3 linked regions of the Homo sapiens genome follow. The protein of the gene in region 3 purifies or fractionates together with the protein of the main gene of each other region. This does not show direct contact. Each region holds a gene or a part of one and is shown on either strand. Other genes may lie near its edges.

Region 1 (7,211 bases), on a different chromosome or scaffold from region 3:
GTAAAAACCAGGTACCACAAAAGGCAATATTGAAAGATGGCGCTAAAAGAGAAGGGCTGGTTAAAAGCCAGTAAAGCAGTTAGCTTGACTCCTACTCAAACACCAGCCAGCTAAAACAAAACACAGAACAAAGCCCTTCTCCCCCTATGCACGAGAAAACTGGAGGTTTGAACCACACAGGCTTACACTCAGGATGGAGAGTGGCACAGTACTGAAAATAAGTGGGAAAGAAAGTCTGCAAACTGAACAATGTGAGATACTTCAAGTTTTAAACATTTTTTGTATAGATGGGGTTTCCCACGTTGCCTAGGCTGGTCTTCAACTCCTCGGCTCAAGCAACCCTTCTGCCTCAGCCTCCCAAAGTGCTGGGATTACAGGAGTGAGCTACTGCAGCTGCCTAACTAAAAGCTTTTAATGTTTCTAGGGTACAACGACAGTCTCCCAAGAATTGTGTGTCAGAACATAAGGCCCAAGCTACTTCTAGATGTACTCAAGAGACATTAAGCAACTCAGCCTTCAGGAAGACAAAGGGGAGAAATGGACTAAAAAGAGCAGAATCTAGGGGGCCGCACTGTCTACTCCCATATGGTTATTTAAATTAAATAAAAATCAAATTCGGCCAGGAGCTGTGGCCCACGCCTATAATCCCAGCACTTTGGGAGACTGAGGCAGGTAGCTGGAGACCAGGAGTTGGAGACCAGCCTGGGCAACACGGCAAAACCCCGTCTCTACAAAAAATACAAAAAAATTAGCCAGCCGTGATGGTGTGCACCTGTGGTCCTAGCTACTTGGGAGGCTGAGGCAGGAGAACCCCTTGAACCCGGAGAGTGGAGGTTACATTGAGCCGAGATCACGCCACTGCACTCCAGACCGGGAGAGAGAGTAAGACTCCGTCTAAAAAAAGAAAAAAGAAAGAAATAAAATAAGTTCCTTTGTCGTGCAGGTCACATTTCAACTGCTAGAAACACACATAGGGCGGGTGACTCCCATACTGGACAGCAGAAATACAGAACACTTTTCTCGTCGCACAAAGTTCTATGGAACGGTGCAGTTCTGGAGCTGAAGCTTCCTAACCACTGTAGGCCAGTCGGAGGTGCCTAGAACGAGAGACCATGGGCTGGGCACCCCAAACCTTGAGGATGTCACACAAACGCTGTTTTTTATGTGTGCTGTGAGCGGTGCTTAAAATGTCAACCTCAGACTTGTCATCTTTGTTACTCAGGTTTCAATCAATGGCCACAACAGGCAGGACGAAAGCCCCTCAATTAAAGGTTGAGAAGAGGTGGGCGGGGGAAGTGTTCAAATCTTTGCTCTGGCCGGTGCAGAGGGTCACGCCTGTGATCCCTGGACACTGAAATGCCCAGGCGGATGGATCACTTACGCTCTGGTGTTCCAGACCAGCTTGGGCAACACAGTGAAATTCCCATCTCTACCAAAAAAGAAAAATAGAACAGGTCAGGCGCGGTGGCTCACACCTGTAATCCCAGCACTTTGGGAAGCCGAGGGCAGACCACTTGAGGTCGGAGTCCCAGAATGGCCAATATGGTGAAACCCCGTCTCCACTAAAAATACAAAAACTACCCGGGTGTGGTGGCGCATGCCTGTAATCCCAGCTACTTGGGAGGCTGAGGCAGGAGAATCGCTTGAACCCGGGAGGCAGAGGTTGCAGTGAGCCGAGATCGCACCACTGCACTCCAGCAGGGGCAACAAAGCGAGACTCTATCTCAAAAAAAGAAAGAAAAAAGAAAAATAAAACAATGAGCCGGGCGTGGTGGCGCGCACCTGTGGTCCCAGCTATTGCGGGAAGCCGAGGTGGGAGGATCCCTGGGGCCCGGGAGTTCGAGACTGCAGTGAGCTCTTCCAGCCTGGGTGCAACAGGGAGACTTTTCTTTCTTTCTTTCTTTCTTTTTTTGAGATGGAGTTTCACTCTTGTTGCCCAGGCTGGAGTGCAATGGCGTGATCTCAGCTCACTGCAACCTCGGCCTCCCGGGTTCAAGCGATTCTCCTGCCTCAGCCTCCCGAGTAGCTGGGAAATGGGGTTTCTCCATGTTGGTCAGGCTGGTCTCGAACTCCTGGCCTCAGGTGATCCGACTGCCTCGGCCTCCCAAAGTGCTGGGATTACAGGCCTGAGCCACCGCTTTTCTCTTTATAACACCTTTTTCTCTTTATAACAGGAAAAAGGGAGGAAGAGAGAGGGAGAGGGAGAGGCGGAGGGGGAAGAGGAGGGAGAGGGAGACGGGAGGGGAAGGGAGAGAGGGAAAGAAGGAAATTAAATCCCTGTTCTTTTACTACATGGGGAAAGAAAGACATAGATAGATTAGATAGACAGATTAGATAGATAGATAGATAGATAGATAGATAGATAGATAGATTGATTAGATACATAGATATTAAATCCCTGTTCTTTTACTACATGGGGAAACTTTGGGCGGGTTTCCTAAACTCGGCTCAACTTGTTCTCCTGTAAAACAGGGATAATACAAGTCTTTACTCCACAGTTTCCGTGATGAAATTAAAAATGAAGTTCTTCCATCAACTTTAAAGTGATGAAGTAATCGGCGCTCAGAGCGGGCGCAGGCAACGCCGCTGAGGAGCCCGAGGCTAGGCTCTCGGGGGAAGGGCCGGGCGACCTCCCACCCCGGCCAGGGCAGGCCCCGCAGCAGCGAACTCGGCTCCTTCAGTGATCGCCCCGAGCTCTCGCCTGCCCAGCCCCCACGCCCAGCAACCCAGATACGCGCGGGGGTTCGGGCTCCTTAGCCCCGACCACTGGCGCCGCCCCGAGGGCCCGAATCCCCTCAGGCCGCCGGGTTCCAAGCCCGCGTGCAGCCCACCTCGTGGGGTGTCTCCTGAATCCCAATCCAGGAATCAGGCGTGGGGAGGTTTATCCCGAAGCTAGAGGCCCAAGGCCTGAGGAGAAGCAACACCCCTCCTCACCTGAAACCAGCAGGCCGCGGCCGGGCTCGCGAGCCCGCCGAAGACTCGGTAGTTACCTCGGCCGCACTCCGAATGCACCTACGCCAACTGCCACTTCCGGAGCCGCTCAAGCTCCCGCCAGAGCCGCCGGCAGGCATGCTCCTATTGGACAGAAGCCCTACGCTGTGGCCAATACCCACTCTTCTTCTTCAATGGGTCCCCCGATAGCTGAAGCAGCGGTGCTCTCATTGGCTGGTAGTTCGTCCTGACGAGGCGGGACCGCGCTTGAGGAAGCCTCCTACAATTGGCAGGAATCTACGTCCGTCACCTTGCACCCGCCCCGGAAAAAATGGGAGGTTTTTTTGTTTTTTTTTTGTTTGGTTTTTTTTTTTTTTTTTAGCGCGTTTTATTTGAACTTTCTGGCGGGAGAAAGTTATATGATTTCTCGGTCCATTTTGGAATGGGGATGATGATATTAAAACTGACTCCTGCTGCTTATCCCTAACGCTTTAGTGAAGGAGTTATCTGTATCCAAAGGATAGCAGCTAATCGAATAATTTCAAAATATTTCAATATTTTGAATTTCGGAGCCTGTAAAGAGGCGTAGGACAGTCCAGTTCATATGTATCCTCTCATGGGGTTGAAGAGCTCACGCAAAATACTTTGCCTACATAATCTCTTCAATCTCAAACCGCTGCAAGGGATCTGAGCTACTGAACAGTCTCAAATCACTTGTTAGGGCCGCCGCTCGCCGCCAGCGCCAAAAGAAAGGGGCCCCCGGAATTCTCCAGCTACGTACGAGGAGCGCGAGCCCACAGCCGTCTCGGCTCCGAGCCCGCCGCCGGCAGGAAAGCCACAAAGAAAACTGATAAACCCAGACAAGATGATAAAGACGATCTAGATGTAACAGAACTCACTAATGAAGATCCTTTGGATCAGCTTGTGAAATACGGAGTGAATTGTGGTCCTATTGTGGGAACAACCAGGAAGCTGTATGAGAAATAGCTTTTGAAACTGAGGGAGCAAGGAACAGAATCAAGATCGTCTCCTTCAGCAACAATTTCTTCTTCAGCAGAAAATACAAGGCAGAATGGAAGTAATGATTCTGACAGATATGGTGAAAATGAAGAAGACTCTAAATTGGGCTCAAGTTTGAGAAGAGAGAACCGCTAAACAGGGGAGTAAAGACTCCAGTAACCCTCAAGCAAAGAAGAGTTGAGCACAAGGAGAGCTATTCTCAAGCTGGAATAACTGGGACTGAATGGACAAGTGGATCTTCAAAAGGCGGACCTCTGCAGGCATTATTAACTAGGGAATCTACAAGAGGGTCAAGAAGAACTCCAAGCAAAAGGGTGCACGCTTCAGAATATTTTCGTATAGATGGAGCAGTAATTTCAGCGAGTACTCCCATAGCTGAAACTATAATTGCTTCAAACAACGAATCCTTAATTGTCAATAGGGTGACTGGAAATTTCAAGCATGCATTTCCTATTCTGCCAGTCACTGAATTCTCAGACATACCCAGAAGAACACCAAAGAAACCATTGACAAGAGCTGAAGTGGGAGAAAAAAAACACAGGAAAGAAGAGTAGAAAGGGATATTCTTAAGGAAATGTTCCCCTATGAAGCAACTACACCAACAAGAATTAGTGCTAGTTGCCGCAGAACAATCAAAGGAGCTGCAGGCCGGCCATTAGAACTCAGTGATTTGAGGATGGAGGAGTCGTTTTCATCTACATATGTTCCTAAGTATGTTCCCTTGGCAGACGTCAAGTGAGAAAATACAAAAAAAAGGGACGCTCCATTCCTGTATGGATAAAAATTTTGCTGTTTGTTGTTGTGGCAGTTTTTTTGTGTGTGTTTGGTCTATCAAGCTATGGAAACCAACCATGTAAATCCCTTCTCTAATATTCTTCCTGATGACTCTAGAAAACCCAACTGAATGGTATCTCTTTGGCACATTCAACTTGGTCTTGTATTTTTAGTAACTGTGTTGAAGAACATTCGTGTACGCTTTTTGACTCCAAGAACTAAAAATAATGTGATTTTGCCTCAATAAACGTAGTATTCCATTGGAAAGCAAACAAAAGATATATGAATGGACTTTATTAAAATGTTTTTGAACTTTGGACTAGTAGGAGATCACTTTGTGCCATATGAATAATCTTTTTTAGCTCTAGAACTTTTTTTTTTTTAGACAGGGTCTCGCTCTGTTGCCCAGGCTGGAGTGCAATGGCATGATTTCGGCTCACTGCAACCTCCACCTCCTGGGTTCAAGTGATTCTCCTGCCTCAGCCTCCTGAGTAGCTGGGATCACAGGCACGTGCCACTACGCCCACCTAATTTTTGTATTTTTAGTAGCGGTGGGGTTTCACTATGTTGGCCAGGCTGGTCCTGAACTCCTGACCTCAGGTGATCCACCCGCCTTGGCCTCCCAAAGTGCTGGGATTATAGGCGTGAGCCACCGCGCCCGGCCATAATGTTCATGATCTTGATAGAGTTTGGATTACTCATATGTATGCATTTGTCAAAACTCATCAAATGCTATCTTTAAGATTTGTGCATTTCACACAAATTTTTCACAGCAAAAACTTACCTTCCCACCCCCCCGCCAAAAAAAAGCTCATAGAGAGATAAACTCCAGTTAATGGCATAAATGCTGAAGTGTTTAGGAATGAAGTGCATAAAAAATCAGGATGAATTAATGGCTAGAAAGAGGCACAAGCAGATAAATAGGTATGTGATAAAACAAATATAATAAATTGTTAGTTGTAGAATTTAGGTGGTAGGTATATGGTTGTTCAGAGTACAATTGTACTGACTTTTCTGTGTATCTGGAAATTTTCATACATAAGTGTTGGGAAAAATCAGGTACAGGGCCTTGGAAGGCATCCTGTGCAAGTAAAAGGCCCTGAAGATTAAGCTTTATCAGGCTTATAGTAAATTCACCTATAATAATTGTGGGTCTGCCAGAGTATGAATAATTCATCTACCAGGGAGAATTTTCACTGTAACTCCTACAGTAAATAGAACAAATGATTTTAAAGATGAAAACAGTGGCTGGGCATGGTGGCTCATGCCTGTAATCCCAGCACTTTGGGAGGACAAGGTGGGCGGATCCCTTGAGGTCAGGAGTTCCAGACCAGCAGACCCTGCCTCTGAAAAAAAAGAAAAAAGAAAAAAGGAAGGAAGGAAAATAGTAAAATAGTAATACCTGCCAGTAAGTTCTACAAAATAATCATATTAAGTTTATATTCTTCTGCATTTTTTATTTATAGAAAAAAACCATGTTCTAGGTTTTAAAAAAATCAAGGATAAGTAAAAGATAAAAACATAAGGCCGAGTGTGGTGGCTTATGCCTGTAATCCCAGCACTTTGGGAGGCCAAGGTGGGAGTATCACTTGCGCCCAGAAGTTCAAGACTAGCCTAGGCAACACAGTGAAACCCTGTCTCATAATAATAATAATAATAGTAATAGAAATCAGCCATAATTTTCTTCACCAGAGATGATTACTAGAATACAAGACCCAAATGTATTTTTATTGCTGTCTTCTCAGTGATTGAAACAATGGACAGCACATTTGCTGTTGAATGATTTAGAATGAGTTCTGAAAAAAATGTAACTTTAAAGACAGGGATTAGTGTATCCTAGGCAAAGCACACACCATGAACAAAGGTATAAGATCTAAAATGAGACCAGGTGTGGTGGCTCATGTCTGTAACCCCAGCACTTTGGGAGGCCGAGGTGGGCAGATCACTTGAGGTCAGGAGTTCGAGACCAGCCTGACCAACATGGTGAAATGCTGTCTCTACTAAAAATACAAAAATTAGCCAGGTGTGGTGGCACACACCTGTAATCCCAGACACTTGGGAGGCTGAGACAGGAGAATCGCTTGAACCTGCAAGGCGGAGGTTGCAGTGAGCCGAGATTGCGCCACTGCACTCCAGCCTGGCCAACAAGAGTGAAACTCTAGGCCGGGCGCGGTGGCTCACACCTGTAATCCCAGCACTTCAGGAGGCCGAGGCGGGTGGATCACCTGAGGTCAGGAGTTCGAGACCAGCCTGACCAACATGGTGAAACCCCCATCTCTACTAAAAAATACAAAAAGTTAGCCGGGTGTGATGGTGAGCACCTGTAATCCCAACTACTTAGGAGGCTGAGGCAGGAGAATCGCTTGAACCCAGGAGGCAGAGGTTCCAGTGAGCCAAGATTGCACCACTGCACTCCAGCCTGGGCGTGACAGAGCAAGACTCCGTCTTAAAAAAAGAAATCTAGAATGAAAGCACCACAAACATGG
Region 2 (7,026 bases), on a different chromosome or scaffold from region 3:
GTATTTATACATGACATACAACACAGGAGGCACTGCAGAGCAGAGAAGGCAGACCTTTCATGACATTCGGTCACAAAGTCAACTCCAATGGGTTAAAGAAAAAACATAAGGCACAAAACATGATACTTTTCATAAGATAATTTCAGACAGGGAAAGATTTTTTAAAAACAAGACCAAAAAGCCATAACAATGAGAAAAGGATTAATTAAATTAAAATGTTAAACTTTGTTCATCAGAAGAAGCCATTAGAAAGGGTGAAAAAAAAAGCCATGGGATGGGGAAAGATATTTGTAGTATGTATCACTGACCAAGGGCTTATATACAAATTGTGAAAAGAACTCTTATGCTAAAAAGGCAGACAACTCTGGCATTTCACAAAAGAGGGAGGAAGGGAGATTCCGTAAATATGTGACACTAGATTCACCCCAGTAGTTATAAGGGAAATGCAATTCAAACCACCATGAAATATTGTAAGACATACACCAGGTTGGTAATAATTTTAAAAACCAGTGGTAATAACTTAAAAATCCAGCAATACCAAATGTTGGTAAGGAGGTAAGGATATGGAGCAGCACAACTCTGATATACTAGCAGTGATGTGAATTTAGTACAGTCACTCTGGAAAGAGTTTAGTATTTTCTAATAAAGTTGAAGATAAATGTGTTCAGTGACCTAGCAATTCCATTCCTACATATGTACCACCTCCATTCCTAAGTCTTTACCATGGAGAAAAGCATGCTTATGTGCATTAAGGATATTCACAGCAGCATTGTTCTTAATAGCCAAAAAACTGTCCATCAAGAGTAAAATGGATAATGATGAATATTATAAACAATGAAAATAAACTTTGGTTACACGTAAAAACGATGAGTCCACAATGTTGGAGGAAAGAAGCAAGACAAAAGAATACATATAGTATGACCCGGTTTATATAAAACAGCCAGACAACACTAAAAAGTATTGTTTATGGCAAGCCTTGGCAAACTTTCCTTTAAAGGCAAAATGATAACTGTTTTAGACATAACTGCCACATGGTCTCTGTCACAACCAAAAGCTACTAAACTCTGCCACTGTAGGCAGAAGCAGCCCTAGTCCAGCCAAAGTTGTGTTCCAGCAAGAACGAATACCTACCTTATGGATACTTGTATTCAAGATAAAATTACTTTTAAAAGTGAGAGAATGGGAGGAGGAAAATGATAACCATAAGAAGCTTTTGGAGAAGGGAGGGGTTTATGATCAGGGAAGGATGAATGGGGACTTCCAGGATGCTGGCCGTGCTTTCGTGTGGCTTGTGTGTGGAGGTTGCCTGGGTGTTCACTTTATCTGTTAAATTCTGTATAAAAGTTGTGCAACAAGTTGTATGTCTTCAATAAGTTTTAAAAAATAAGAATTTCAGTGTTTCCTTAAATGGTTAATTACTCAGTTTTATGTGGATTTTTGTTCGCTTTTGAATTGCCCTGCTTGCTTTCTGAAATGTGTCAAAGAAATATTTCTAAAAGAACTTAAATAGTAATATAAGACTATTATCTTACATGTGGTTTTTCTTTAAAATCACAAACATTTAAAAATATAGAACACGGCTGGGTGCGGTGGCTCACGCCTGTAATCCCAGCACTTTGGGAGGCCGAGGCAGGTGGATCACAAGGTCAGGATATCGAGACCATCCTGGCTAACACAGTGAAACCCTGTCTCTACTAAAATACAAAAAATGAGCCGGGCGTGGTGTCGGGCGCCCGTAGTCCCAGCTACTCGGGAGGCTGAGGCAGGAGAATGGCGTAAACCCAGGAGGCAGAGCTTGCAGTGAGCCGAGATCGCGCCACCGCACTCCAGCCTGGGCGACAGAGCGAGACTCAGTCTCAAAAAAAAAAAAAAAAAATGTAGAACACTACTTTGGATTAATAATTCAGGATATGAACACTAGATAATATATGTCAGAGGCTTAGATATAATATAGCTTTCAGTTACAATCTTGGCTTATTCACACCAAAGGATTACAGTGGTCCTCTTTCTCTTATTCACAGGCTCAGTAGATGAAGGCGTTTCTGAGGGCTTGCCTACACTTCAAAGCACGTCTAGCACTAATGCTCCTCCGGATGATGATGATCGGTCAGTACTAACATAGCATTTCGTTACCTCTTAAGGGTTGTGTTTACAACTCCAAATTCAAGCATTTCATCTCAAGAGTTGTAGAAGTTTATTACAACCTCACTTCAGTATACTTTTCAAAGTAATGAAGTAGCATCATCACATTATAAATTAGAGTACCTATACAAGGCTTTTTTTTTTCCCCAGCATTTCCAAAACTACCTAGTCCCATTGCTTTAAATCGTATCTGTACCAAGTGTTGGCAAACTATGAACCACAGGCCAATTCCAGCCTACCACCTTTATTTGTAAATCAAGTATTACTGGAACACAACCAGGCTCATTTGCTGACATATTGTTTGTGGATGGCAGAGTTGAGTGGTTGAAACAGACTGTATGGTGTGCAAAGTCAGAATGTGTGCTGTACGGACTGCTGTGAAAAACATCTGCCAAAGTCTGATCTGTATACCCATAACTCCCTCCCTGCTTGATATTTCCACATAAATGTATAAAGGGCATTTCACATTTAACAAGGCCAAGACAGAACTCTTGATTTCTAACTCCTTGTCTGAATCCTGCTTCTCCAGCCTTTCTCCCATTTCAGTAAGCATCATCATTATCCCCTAATTTCTCAAGCAAAATCTCTGAGGATTGTTCTTAATCTTTTTTCCTTACCACTCTTCATCTCCCTCGTAGTTAATCCTTAAGTCCTGTCAACTCTGCCTATAAAATATATCCCTGTCTACTTTTCTAATCTGTACTGTAGCCACCCTACTCTAAGTCACCACCATCTTTTGCCTTGACTACTGCAATAACCTTCAAAGTAGCCTCTGATTGCATTCTTCCCCTAATCCATTTTCCATGTAGCAGCCAAAATCATCTTTTCTTTTTTAATTAAGTCAGATTATGTCACTGTTTTAAGCTATAGATTCTTAACATTCTTTATTCATACCTAAAATCTATAGGCCTTGCTATGCCTTCTAAAGCCCTACACGATATGACTTCTGCCTAACTCCGTCTCAAAAAATAAAAAAAAAAAACAAAAGGCATTCTGGACATTAACATTGTTTTTCATATTGTTAAAGTAAAACTTGAAGTCTAACAGTTAAACTGTTTCAAAAAGTCTTTAAGTGTTTTATCTTTTTTCATTTAAAATTGACCTATAGCAGTGTTTATTCAGTTTAAAAATCAGAGCCTGGTTGCCTTCTTTGGTCTGTTTTTTTTAGATTGGAAAATGTTCAGTATCCCTACCAACTCTACATTGCTCCTTCCACCAGCAGTACAGAGCGACCAAGTCCAAATGGTCCCGACAGACCTTTTCAGTGTCCAACCTGCGGGGTGCGATTCACCCGTATTCAGAACCTAAAGCAGCACATGCTCATCCACTCAGGTAATGTCACCTTCCCTGTTGGTGCGTAAGTGAACGCTCTAAAACATTTTATTTTGCAGTCCCAGTTAAAATAGAAAACAGGGGCTTCTGAGTTTTAAAAAAAACTCTGGGAAGTCAAATGAAAACAGATTAGCTAAGGTTTATTGCTGAAATGATGCAGTGTCAGAAAGCTGCTTGCCACGGGTGTTGAGTATTCTGATTAAAAGAACATAAGGTGATATGGAGTGAGTACTTTGTAAATAAAAAGACATATTAGGTGTGCACATAGAGGTGAGATAGAGAATCACAAACACAGATGGTAAAGCAAATAGGGTTAAAAGGGTCTGTATGGGTGTTCTTTGTGCTGTTCTTCTTATAATGTCTCTTTAAGTTTGAAATTTTTCCCAAATAAAAGTGTGTTTAAAAATGTAATATTTTCTTGCTAATTTACTTTCAATTCTACAGTCCTAAATCTCTGTGTGCCCTGATGAGTCAGCTTTGTAGTTTGTATTTTTTTAAACATAACAGAGATTTTGGATAAATGTATAGAGGGGATTTGAAATTTTAGTTCAGTAATCACATGAAGGCAACAGGATTCTTGTGGGTAAAACACTGACCTCTGACGAGTAAGAGATCTTTGCTGCTGTTTTCAGCTGCGTGAGTTACTATCTCACTTTCCCCTTCTGTAGATAGGTCTTACAGTCCCTGTCCTAGCACCAATTCTCTGTGACTTTGTTCAATCCGTAGACTGTGTTTTGAAAGGTTTTAAAATTTTTTCCCCAAAACACTGTGATAATGAATTTGAGGAGACTATTAATACACTTTATAACTCATTTATTTCTATCAATATTACATCATATTACCCAAAAAAACCCATTATATCAAATGATGGTTCTGTCATGCTCATTACATTCAGAGATGTTAAAATTGTTCTTTCTTCTCGTTTCTCTGTGAGATAGGGAACAGAGAGTAGGTACTGATGATTTTCATATCCGTTCAATGTAAACCTCTAATGAAATGAAATAATATGTGCTGTTAGTGGGGATTTGGGTTCTGTCTACATACTGTAGTTAAATTGTGTTTTGAAGTTAGTAAAATAGATGATCTAGAAAAGCATTCAAAAATCAGCTTCAGTAGACGTTACCTAGTTTGCCTCCCCTACTGCCTTTTTTTCTTTTCCTTTTTAAGCACTTGTGACTTTTCACATATTCTGCACATTTTCTGAGATACTCAATTAGAATATGTTTTTGCTGGTAATTCTTGCCTTTTCAGATGATCTGTTGCTACAGAAATATAGTTCAGAAATTTGTAGGGTTTATGACTTTTCAGTTTATTTTTGTTTTTAGATATTTTGTTTTGCTTTATTTACAGGAATTAAACCATTTCAGTGTGACCGCTGTGGGAAAAAGTTCACCAGGGCTTACTCGCTAAAGATGCATCGCCTAAAGCATGAAGGTAAACGCTGTTTCCGGTGCCAGATATGTAGTGCCACTTTCACTTCCTTCGGGGAATATAAACACCACATGAGGGTTTCCCGGCACATTATCCGCAAGCCTCGGATTTACGAGTGCAAAACATGTGGCGCCATGTTCACCAACTCTGGAAATTTAATCGTGCACCTGAGGAGTCTGAACCATGAAGCATCAGAGCTAGCAAACTACTTCCAGAGCAGGTGAGGTGCACAACGAAAACCCAACCAGGAAAACTGCTTTCTAAACTCTCTTTTCCTGCTTTTAGGGCAGCCTTCTGTGTTTTTACATCAGGTTGCCAGCTAGTCAGTCACATTTGTTACGGATTCCCACTGTTCATACTCTAATCTCCTGATCTGATAAAATTTTGCTGAGTCTTCTACGTATATAAAATTATAAACATTTTATAGTTGGTATTAAAAATATTTTCCTGCAGAAGTAGACTACTTGTCCTCTTGAGATATTTTTTAAATAATACAAGGTTTAAGTAATTCTGTAATGGACCTTAAATAGATCTTACTGGAAATTTTACCATGTCAGATGATGCTTAGTGATACTGGATTACTCCAGACTCTAGATGTTAATAAAATTCTTTACCACTTCTCTCTATTTAAAAATATTCTATATAAAGGAATAGCCATTGGCCAGTAAGAAAAATTTCAAAGGCAACTATAGTGGGTGTGATGGTTTAGATCATGAAGTCATTGCTATTTTCATTCAGTTTAGAGCTCTATTCTTGTAATATTAATTTATAATAGAATTACCTTTCTGATTTATAGGGCATCCCAGGAAATCAGCTTCTAGATCTAGCTCTGCCACTAACTGCTGTTGATTAAACCTGTCACTTTACACATGAAAAAGCTTGAAACTTAGAGAAAGATAAAATGTAAGCTTTAAACGATGGTTTCTAAGGCCTTCTCTAGATATAAAACTGTTGTTTTAAATTGTTTATAAGAATTGTACTTCTGTAGGAATCCTTAGTTTCTCATAAAATGAAATTTTTACAAATCTTTCTTTTTTTTTTTTTTGAGATGGAGTCTCACTGTCACCCAGGCTGGAATGCAGTGGCACGATTTCGGCTTACTGCAACCTCAGCCTCCTGAGTAGCTGGGATTACAGGTGCCCACCACTACACCCAGCTAATATTTGTATTTTTAGTAGAGATGGGGTTTCACCATGTTGGCCAGTCTGATCTCGAACCCCTGACCTCAAGTGATCCGCCTGCTTCAGCCTCCCAAAGTGCTGTGGGATTACAGGCGTGAGCCACCATGCCCAGCCCAAATCTTTACATTTTAAATCACCCTTATTTTTAAAACCTTTTTTTTTTTTAATTGAATAGATAGGGTCTTGCAGTGTTGCCCAGGCTGAAGTGCAGTGGCTGTTCATAGACACAATCATAGTGCACTGCAGCCTCGAACTCCTGAGGTCAAGCAGTTCTCCTGCTGGGGCTACAAGTGTGGGCACCACCCCTGACTTAAAACCTTATTTGTAAACAAATTCCAAATTATTCCTGCGTAGATTTTGTTTTTCCCTTCAAACCAGACATTCATTTTGTTTAATGCAGTCATCTCTAATTCTGAATGTGTGGTTGCCATATCACTAAACCTTAGGTTATACATATCATATTAAACATAGTTTGTTCAGGACTAAAATAGTGTTCCTGTTAACTACTCATGTTATCTTTATCGTCCCTGTACAGAGCCCTGTATTCTCCATTCTTCTTCTCTAACACCTGAATGAAGACTTTTTAGAAAATATAACATAGGGCATTCTAAATTACTTTGCAGATGAACAGATTTTAATTTTTTATTAATACTGAACAATGAAATTATAAAATAACCTTATCAAGTCTAAGTACATATATTATTGACAATTATGGTATAATGAAGTTCTTAGTTCAGTAATAAAGATTTAAATAAAGCCTCTAAGATAAGACTTATTTCACATACTTAGTTTCAATTACCAAAAGATGCTTATAAGTAGGAAATTTAGGAAATACAGAAAAGTATGAAGAAGAAATTTAAAATATTTTCTATTTCATCACTTAAGGAAAGTAGCCACTGTTTTTAGTATATTTTACTGTCCATGTTGCCTGTGGGGACCA
Region 3 (6,752 bases):
AGAGACACAGCCCCTACCCTTAGGGAGTTTTCAGTCTCCTAGAAACCCCACCATCCCACAGTCTTCCCCAGACCTCTTCTCTAAGCCTGGCCTTCAGCTCCCACCCCAAAGCCCTCTCCTCTTGCCACCAGCCCTGACTCTGCCCTTGGTCTGCTGCAGCTCCAGAAGTGCTGGCCCAGAAACCCTACAGCAAGGCTGTGGATTGCTGGTCCATCGGCGTCATCACCTACATATTGTGAGTAGACGCTGGCCTGGGTTCAGCTGATGAGAAGTCTCGGAGCCTGCTTACCCCTTCTCGTTCCCTCCCCTGTCTCAGCTCCTCCTCCAAGCACGTGCATGTGCACAAACAGACACAGGCACAGGGGCACACGGGTACACACACACACACACACACACACATACATGTACACACAGCTTAAAAGCTTCCTCTCTCTTCACCTCCACCAAGTTTTAAAACAGAGCTCAGCGTGAATCCACTGCACAGCCACCTGGCACTCCCTCCTCTTGCACCCCTGCCCCTTTTACTGCCTATAAATGTGTTGCATCCCACTCAGTGGAATGAACAGTGAAAAAGAGAGAGGCCAAGCCAGGCTTGGAAGCCAGGTGGACCCTCTGTTCCTACATCTCAGCTTTCCCAAGGCAAAACTGTGGCCTGGATAAAGCTGGTCAGGGCCTTTCCTTTTCGCTCCTCTCCACACATTCCCAAGCTCTCCCTTTCCTAACCTGCCCATCACCTCTTCCCCACCATCCCTCCTCACCTATAGCAAACTTTGCTCTTAGGAAAATAACCTGGTTTCAATTATCTCCTCCATTTATGTTGAATAAGTACTCTCATTTATTTACCCAACCAATATTCACTGCCTATCTACTCTGCATCTATCCCTGTGCTAGGTTCTAAAGAATCCCGCAGTGAACAACACAGCCTAAATAAATCCTTCATCAAGCTTACATTCAAGTAGACAGTCTACCAACTTTCTTAAACATATTTTATATAGCATTCATAAGTCAGGGAAAGTATAAGGAGAGGTGGCAAGGGTTGGAGGGCATAATGTACACAGGGACCTTCTAGGGATGACTGTGCCAAGGCTTGGCACTTGCATAAACACTTTACGGGACCTGTACCATTCTGGAATTTGAGGCAGATCTGCGTCCTGGTCACACCACTGTTCTGGGACCTTCAGTGCCCACCTGTGTATACAGTGGGAGCTTGGGGGAGCAGAGAGGCTGGCTCAGGGAGGACAGGTTTGTTCAGTAGTATGCCTCCTTCCTGTCCTGCTGCAGGCTCTGTGGATACCCCCCATTCTATGAAGAAACGGAGTCTAAGCTTTTCGAGAAGATCAAGGAGGGCTACTATGAGTTTGAGTCTCCATTCTGGGATGACATTTCTGAGTCAGGTAAGGCCAGTAGGCATGAAGGAGAGATAACAGGCTCAAGGTAGAGGCTGCCAAGAGAAATGAGCTTAACAAAGGATGACAGTCCCGGCTCTTCAAAGTCCCTGGGGATCTTACAGAACAGGCTGCCAAGGAAAGTGGAGAAATCTTCGTCTGCTTCAAAGACCCGATAAATTATTTACATCTAAGAGCTATGCTTTTGTTTTTCTGGAGGCAGAACCACAGTATGCCTGAAAAGGAGATGGGGGGGCAGTTTAGAAGATGGGCCAGGAGGGCAGAGCCAGGTGGTGAGGGGAGAGTTCCAGACAAGAGCAGCAAAACTAAGGGGTTAGATATCAAGAAAGAGCATGCAATGTCTATGTGTGAGAGAAGATGATCATTACGTGATTGTTGGACCTGTTAAGTGGAAATCAGAGCTGGAACAATCCAGCACTCACATGCGTGCCCATGTGCCAGCGCTGGCCCCTGTTTCAGTGCAAACACATGCACATGTGATGTGCAGGCACATGGGGGCCTTGTGACTAGTGACGCTTCTGCAGTGCTGTGTGGGTGAGGCGGCTTGGAGCTTCCCTTCTTTGGTGGTTTATGGTGGGTTGTTGTTAGGTGGTTTGGATTTTTTTTCCTCTTCTAAGACTCTTAAAATTGCCTCTTTGGAAGATCAGCTAAAGATGCATTCACTGCCACCCACCAGCCCGGAAGTGAATTTCCATCAGTCATGAAATCTGGTCCTTAGTCGTCGTGTCTTTGATTACTCCCCTTAGCCAAGGACTTTATTTGCCACTTGCTTGAGAAGGATCCGAACGAGCGGTACACCTGTGAGAAGGCCTTGAGTCATCCCTGGTGAGTGAGACATGGAGTGGACTCTAGACCCCAGCCCTGTAGTTCCCAAAACCATGCTGACTCATTCATATTGCATTTCCCTGGAATCTGCTTGTCCTGATCCATTTAATGATGTGACAAGCAAGGACCATGCCATTGTTCATCAGGCCCAGGTAGAGATTCAAACATTATACAGTGGAGCAGGTTCTAATGCAAGGGTAGCAGCTGGGTTGTCTGGTCAAGTGCAGGAGGCAGGTGCAGCCGAGCGCTGTCATTCAGCACTGGGATAGGGTGCAATGTTCAGTACTAGTTATTCAAGAAGTGCCAGGAATGGGCAACTCTGTCCTGTCCTTTAGAGCTTTGTTTTACTCAGGGATCAATAACTGTTCCAGGTGAAGTGATTTAAGAACAACTGCAAAGCAACCGATTGGCAAAATAGGAAAAAGAAAATCTTAAAATATTTTTTCATGTTACTTCCCAACTCAATTTACAATAGCTCCCCACTTCATACCCCAGCAAGCCTGGATTCCTTTGTCTTTCCAGTTTCCCTAATATGGCCTGACCCTTTATCTCCAGCCTCTTTTCCCAGGATTGCCAGCATACCTCCTCTGTCCAGATAGGCCTGGGAGCTATATCTGTCTCACCCCACATACCAAGCTCTGTCTTAACTACACCTTGGATCAGATCATTCCCACTACCTACAATGTCCTGCCTCTTGCCCTGTATGTAGCATCTTTCAGGATCCAGATCAGTCTCTGCCCTTCCCTGAAGCCCCTGACCCCTGCAGCCCAACCCAATCTCCCCAGTTCTCTTTATTAATCACACGGCTTACCATGTATTACTGCAGTCCATAGCATGAACAACACCCGACATCTAGACTGTAGGCTCCTAGGGGTCAGGGCCCATGTCTCTTACTTCTCGAGGTCTATTAGTAGTTGGCACAGTACTATGCACACAGCAAGTGTCTGAGGAACACTTAGAGACCAGTGAATAAGAGGCTAAGGGGATAGGAAAGGGGCAGCCTGTACCAGACGGCCTTACTGAGGAAGGCTTCCAGGAGGAGGTGGGTTCTAGGCAAGGTTTTGAGCTAAAGGATGGTGACTACCCCAGTGCCCTGTGATGCTGGGTCCAATAAACTTTTTCTATAAAGCATCAGATAGTAAATATTTTAGGCTTTCCTGGCCATACTGTCTTTATGGCAACTACTCAACCCTGCTGTCACAGTGCAAAAGGAGCCACAGACAATACCTGAATTAATGGGCACCACTGTGTCCCCATAAAACCTTATTTACAAAAACAGGCAATAGGTCGATTTGGCCTATAGGCTATAGCTTGTTGACCTTGCTCTAAAAGTTTTTGATTTTGCCAAAGCTAAAGCCGACTCTTACTTGCCCAGGGGCACAGAGGAGACCTGCTTGCAGCCCTTTCCTGCTGTGGGCTGTCTTTCCTCTGCACACTCTACCCAGCTCTCACCTAGACCTGCAGGCACCCTGCCCACTCCCTGGATGAGTGTAAATAGCCACCCAGTAGCCAGGTGTCCCCTCTTACATCCACAGGATTGACGGAAACACAGCCCTCCACCGGGACATCTACCCATCAGTCAGCCTCCAGATCCAGAAGAACTTTGCTAAGAGCAAGTGGAGGGTAAGCTGTCCTCTCCAGGGGGTGGGAAAGCTGTTCTGGGCCCCTGGAGGCTGGGCTGGCAGGGGCTGACATAAGGGCTTTCCTTGGGATGTCCCAGAAGGCATTGGAGCTCCGTGTACCCTCTCTGAAATGAGAAGTGGGCACCCAGGTTTCAAGAGGCCACAAGGCAAAGGGAAAGTTTAAGCTCCAAGGCCCTCTGAGGTTGCAGAAGGCCAGAGGCTGCTCTTGTGTCTCCTTAGCAAGCCTTCAACGCAGCAGCTGTGGTGCACCACATGAGGAAGCTACACATGAACCTGCACAGCCCGGGCGTCCGCCCAGAGGTGGAGAACAGGCCGCCTGAAACTCAAGCCTCAGAAACCTCTAGACCCAGCTCCCCTGAGATCACCATCACCGAGGCACCTGTCCTGGACCACAGTGTAGCACTCCCTGCCCTGACCCAATTACCCTGCCAGCATGGCCGCCGGCCCACTGCCCCTGGTGGCAGGTCCCTCAACTGCCTGGTCAATGGCTCCCTCCACATCAGCAGCAGCCTGGTGCCCATGCATCAGGGGTCCCTGGCCGCCGGGCCCTGTGGCTGCTGCTCCAGCTGCCTGAACATTGGGAGCAAAGGAAAGTCCTCCTACTGCTCTGAGCCCACACTCCTCAAAAAGGCCAACAAAAAACAGTACGTATTTTTAGCCAAAGATGGAGCCCCAGCTTGGGTCTGAAAGAAATCGGTCAACAGGACTGAAAGAAATGGACACAAAGGCCTCTCCCACTCATAGGCAGCTATATAGGGAGGGATGAGTTCTGGATGAGGGGGCAAGGAAAATGCTTCCAGCCCTGTCCCCATCACTTACTAGTTGTGAGGCCATTGACGAGTCAATGTCTCTGCTTCTATTTTGCTCATCTGTAAACTGGGTTGAAGTCTATTTACCCAATTAGCCTGCCTCACAGAGGTACTATAAAAGGTTAGTGAAGCAACAGAGATGATAAAAGCCCACAGAAAACTGGGTATTTGCAAGTGGTGAGCATCAGATTCCCCGAGTTTCCAGGGCCTCTGTGCTTTGCAGAAGGAAGTGTAGGGGGGCTTGGTTATCTTTATCTTTTCTGCAGGTTCTTGAACTTTCTGAACCTCATGAGGGGAGAGCTGAGTGGATGCCACAGGCACAGAGAACTACCACCTCTGCCCTGCCCCATCGACTCTTCTTCCCTCAAATACTTCAAAGGTTGTTGCTTCATTTCCTTTCTAGGAACTTCAAGTCGGAGGTCATGGTACCAGTTAAAGCCAGTGGCAGCTCCCACTGCCGGGCAGGGCAGACTGGAGTCTGTCTCATTATGTGATTCCTGGAGCCTGTGCCTATGTCACTGCAATTTTCAGGTTAGGAGGGTCACAGTGTGAGGCTTGGGGAGAGTTTCTGTCCCAGAGGAGAGCCCCATGCCAGAGTGTGAGTGATGGGGTCTGAGGTGGCAACCCCCTCCTCACTCTGAGCCCCTTTCTCTTGCAGGAGACATATTCAACTCCTCTGCTCTTCCAAACCTGGTGTCTATCCGGCAGAGGGAGGAAGGCAGAGCAAGTGGAGCAGGGCTTAGCAGGAGCAGTTTCTGGCCAGAAGCACCAGCCTGCTGCCAGCGGGGCAGCCCCTCATAGGAGGCCCAGGAGGGAGCCCCAAGGCGTAGAAGCCTTGTTGAAGCTGTGAGCAGGAGAAGCGGTGCCCACCAGCTTCCAGGTCTCCCTGACCTGCCTGCTCTATGCCCCACACCCTACGTGCCGTGGCTCTGTGCAGTGTACGTAGATAGCTCTCGCCTGGGTCTGTGCTGTTTGTCGTGAAAAGCTTAATGGGCTGGCCAGGCTGTGTCACCTTCTCCAAGCAAAGCCATATGGAGCATCTACCCAGACTCCCACTCTGCACACACTCACTCCCACCTCTCAAGCCTCCAACCTCTTGGCCAGATTGGGCTCATTAATGTCGTTGCCTGCCCATCTGCATGAATGACAGGCAGCTCCCCATGGTGGTCTGCCTGTGAGCTCTTCAAGTTCTAATCCTTAACTCCAGGATTAGCTCCCAAGTGCGCTGAGACCCAGCCAGCACACTTCTGGCCCTTCTCCCTGCCTCAATCTAAAAGCAGTGCCACACCCTCCAAAGTGGAATAGAAAGAAGTTCATGAGTAAGGGCTGCAAGGAATTCTTATCCTGGCCACATGTCCTCCGTGCACACACCCAATGGAGTTAACCTTGGAAGTTGACTATTTTAATGTCTGCCAGGAGTTCTAATCCTGCCTCTGTTCCCTTTTCTCTCCTTGAAAGTCCAGCACACCATTCTTGTCCTTCCCCAGTTTCCTCGCCCTCCACCCCTCCAGCTTCATGCTCAGTGTTGTGCTTAATAAAATGGACATATTTTTCTCTATGAGGCTTCATTTGGTTCTTTCAAAGTCAGGAGCAGTTCAGGGACTTCTGAGCATGTCTGGAGTAGAGAGTGCATGGATGGCTGGGGTCAGCAAGGAACCAGCAGTTGTAGCTGATGTGCATACAGATGTGCATATAGCTGAGTATACAGTGCTCCAGGCACTGGACATGAGTTACATCATTAACTCATTACTTCTCACAACAACCCCTTGGGACAGGTTCTGTTGGAACCGAGGCAGTCTGGCTTTAGTGGCCATTCTCTTAATGGCTCTATTAGATGAGCATGAGTTCGAGCCCCAGCTCTGCCCCGACCTGCCATATCTGTGACCTTGGGGAAGTTACTTAGTCTTTCGTGCCTTGGTTTCCTCACTTATCCAATGGGAATAGCAGTGCCACCTGCATCATGAAATGATGCAGATGATGTGCCCAGCCTCGTGGCCAATAAATAATCAAAATGATTAACAATGATCAAGAAGTTAATGTAGATAAAATGTCTAGCACAGTGCCTGCTT

What was found.
Region 1: the proteins of CAMK1G (region 3) and RFWD3 purify together in Homo sapiens (affinity purification with mass spectrometry; 2 studies listed by BioGRID and IntAct, with this or other methods). This does not show direct contact.
Region 2: the proteins of CAMK1G (region 3) and ZBTB44 purify together in Homo sapiens (affinity purification with mass spectrometry; 2 studies listed by BioGRID and IntAct, with this or other methods). This does not show direct contact.

What each region holds. Positions count from the first base shown.
Region 1 is NC_000016.10:74,663,852-74,671,062, forward strand, and holds the start of RFWD3 (E3 ubiquitin-protein ligase RFWD3), read right to left. Parts: upstream 3,027-7,211; 5' UTR 2,935-3,026; intron 1,430-2,934; exon of another isoform or gene 1,382-1,429; intron 895-1,381; exon of another isoform or gene 773-894; intron 650-772; exon of another isoform or gene 1-649. UniProt on the Homo sapiens protein: E3 ubiquitin-protein ligase required for the repair of DNA interstrand cross-links (ICL) in response to DNA damage. Plays a key role in RPA-mediated DNA damage signaling and repair.
Region 2 is NC_000011.10:130,234,892-130,241,917, reverse strand, and holds part of ZBTB44 (zinc finger and BTB domain-containing protein 44), read left to right. Parts: intron 1-2,021; coding exon 2,022-2,106; intron 2,107-3,310; coding exon 3,311-3,474; intron 3,475-4,824; coding exon 4,825-5,125; intron 5,126-5,701; exon of another isoform or gene 5,702-5,808; intron 5,809-7,026. UniProt on the Homo sapiens protein: May be involved in transcriptional regulation.
Region 3 is NC_000001.11:209,607,699-209,614,450, forward strand, and holds the end of CAMK1G (calcium/calmodulin-dependent protein kinase type 1G), read left to right. Parts: intron 1-159; coding exon 160-235; intron 236-1,281; coding exon 1,282-1,394; intron 1,395-2,152; coding exon 2,153-2,231; intron 2,232-3,766; coding exon 3,767-3,854; intron 3,855-4,093; coding exon 4,094-4,518; intron 4,519-5,086; coding exon 5,087-5,177; 3' UTR 5,178-5,214; intron 5,215-5,341; 3' UTR 5,342-6,241; downstream 6,242-6,752. UniProt on the Homo sapiens protein: Calcium/calmodulin-dependent protein kinase belonging to a proposed calcium-triggered signaling cascade. In vitro phosphorylates transcription factor CREB1.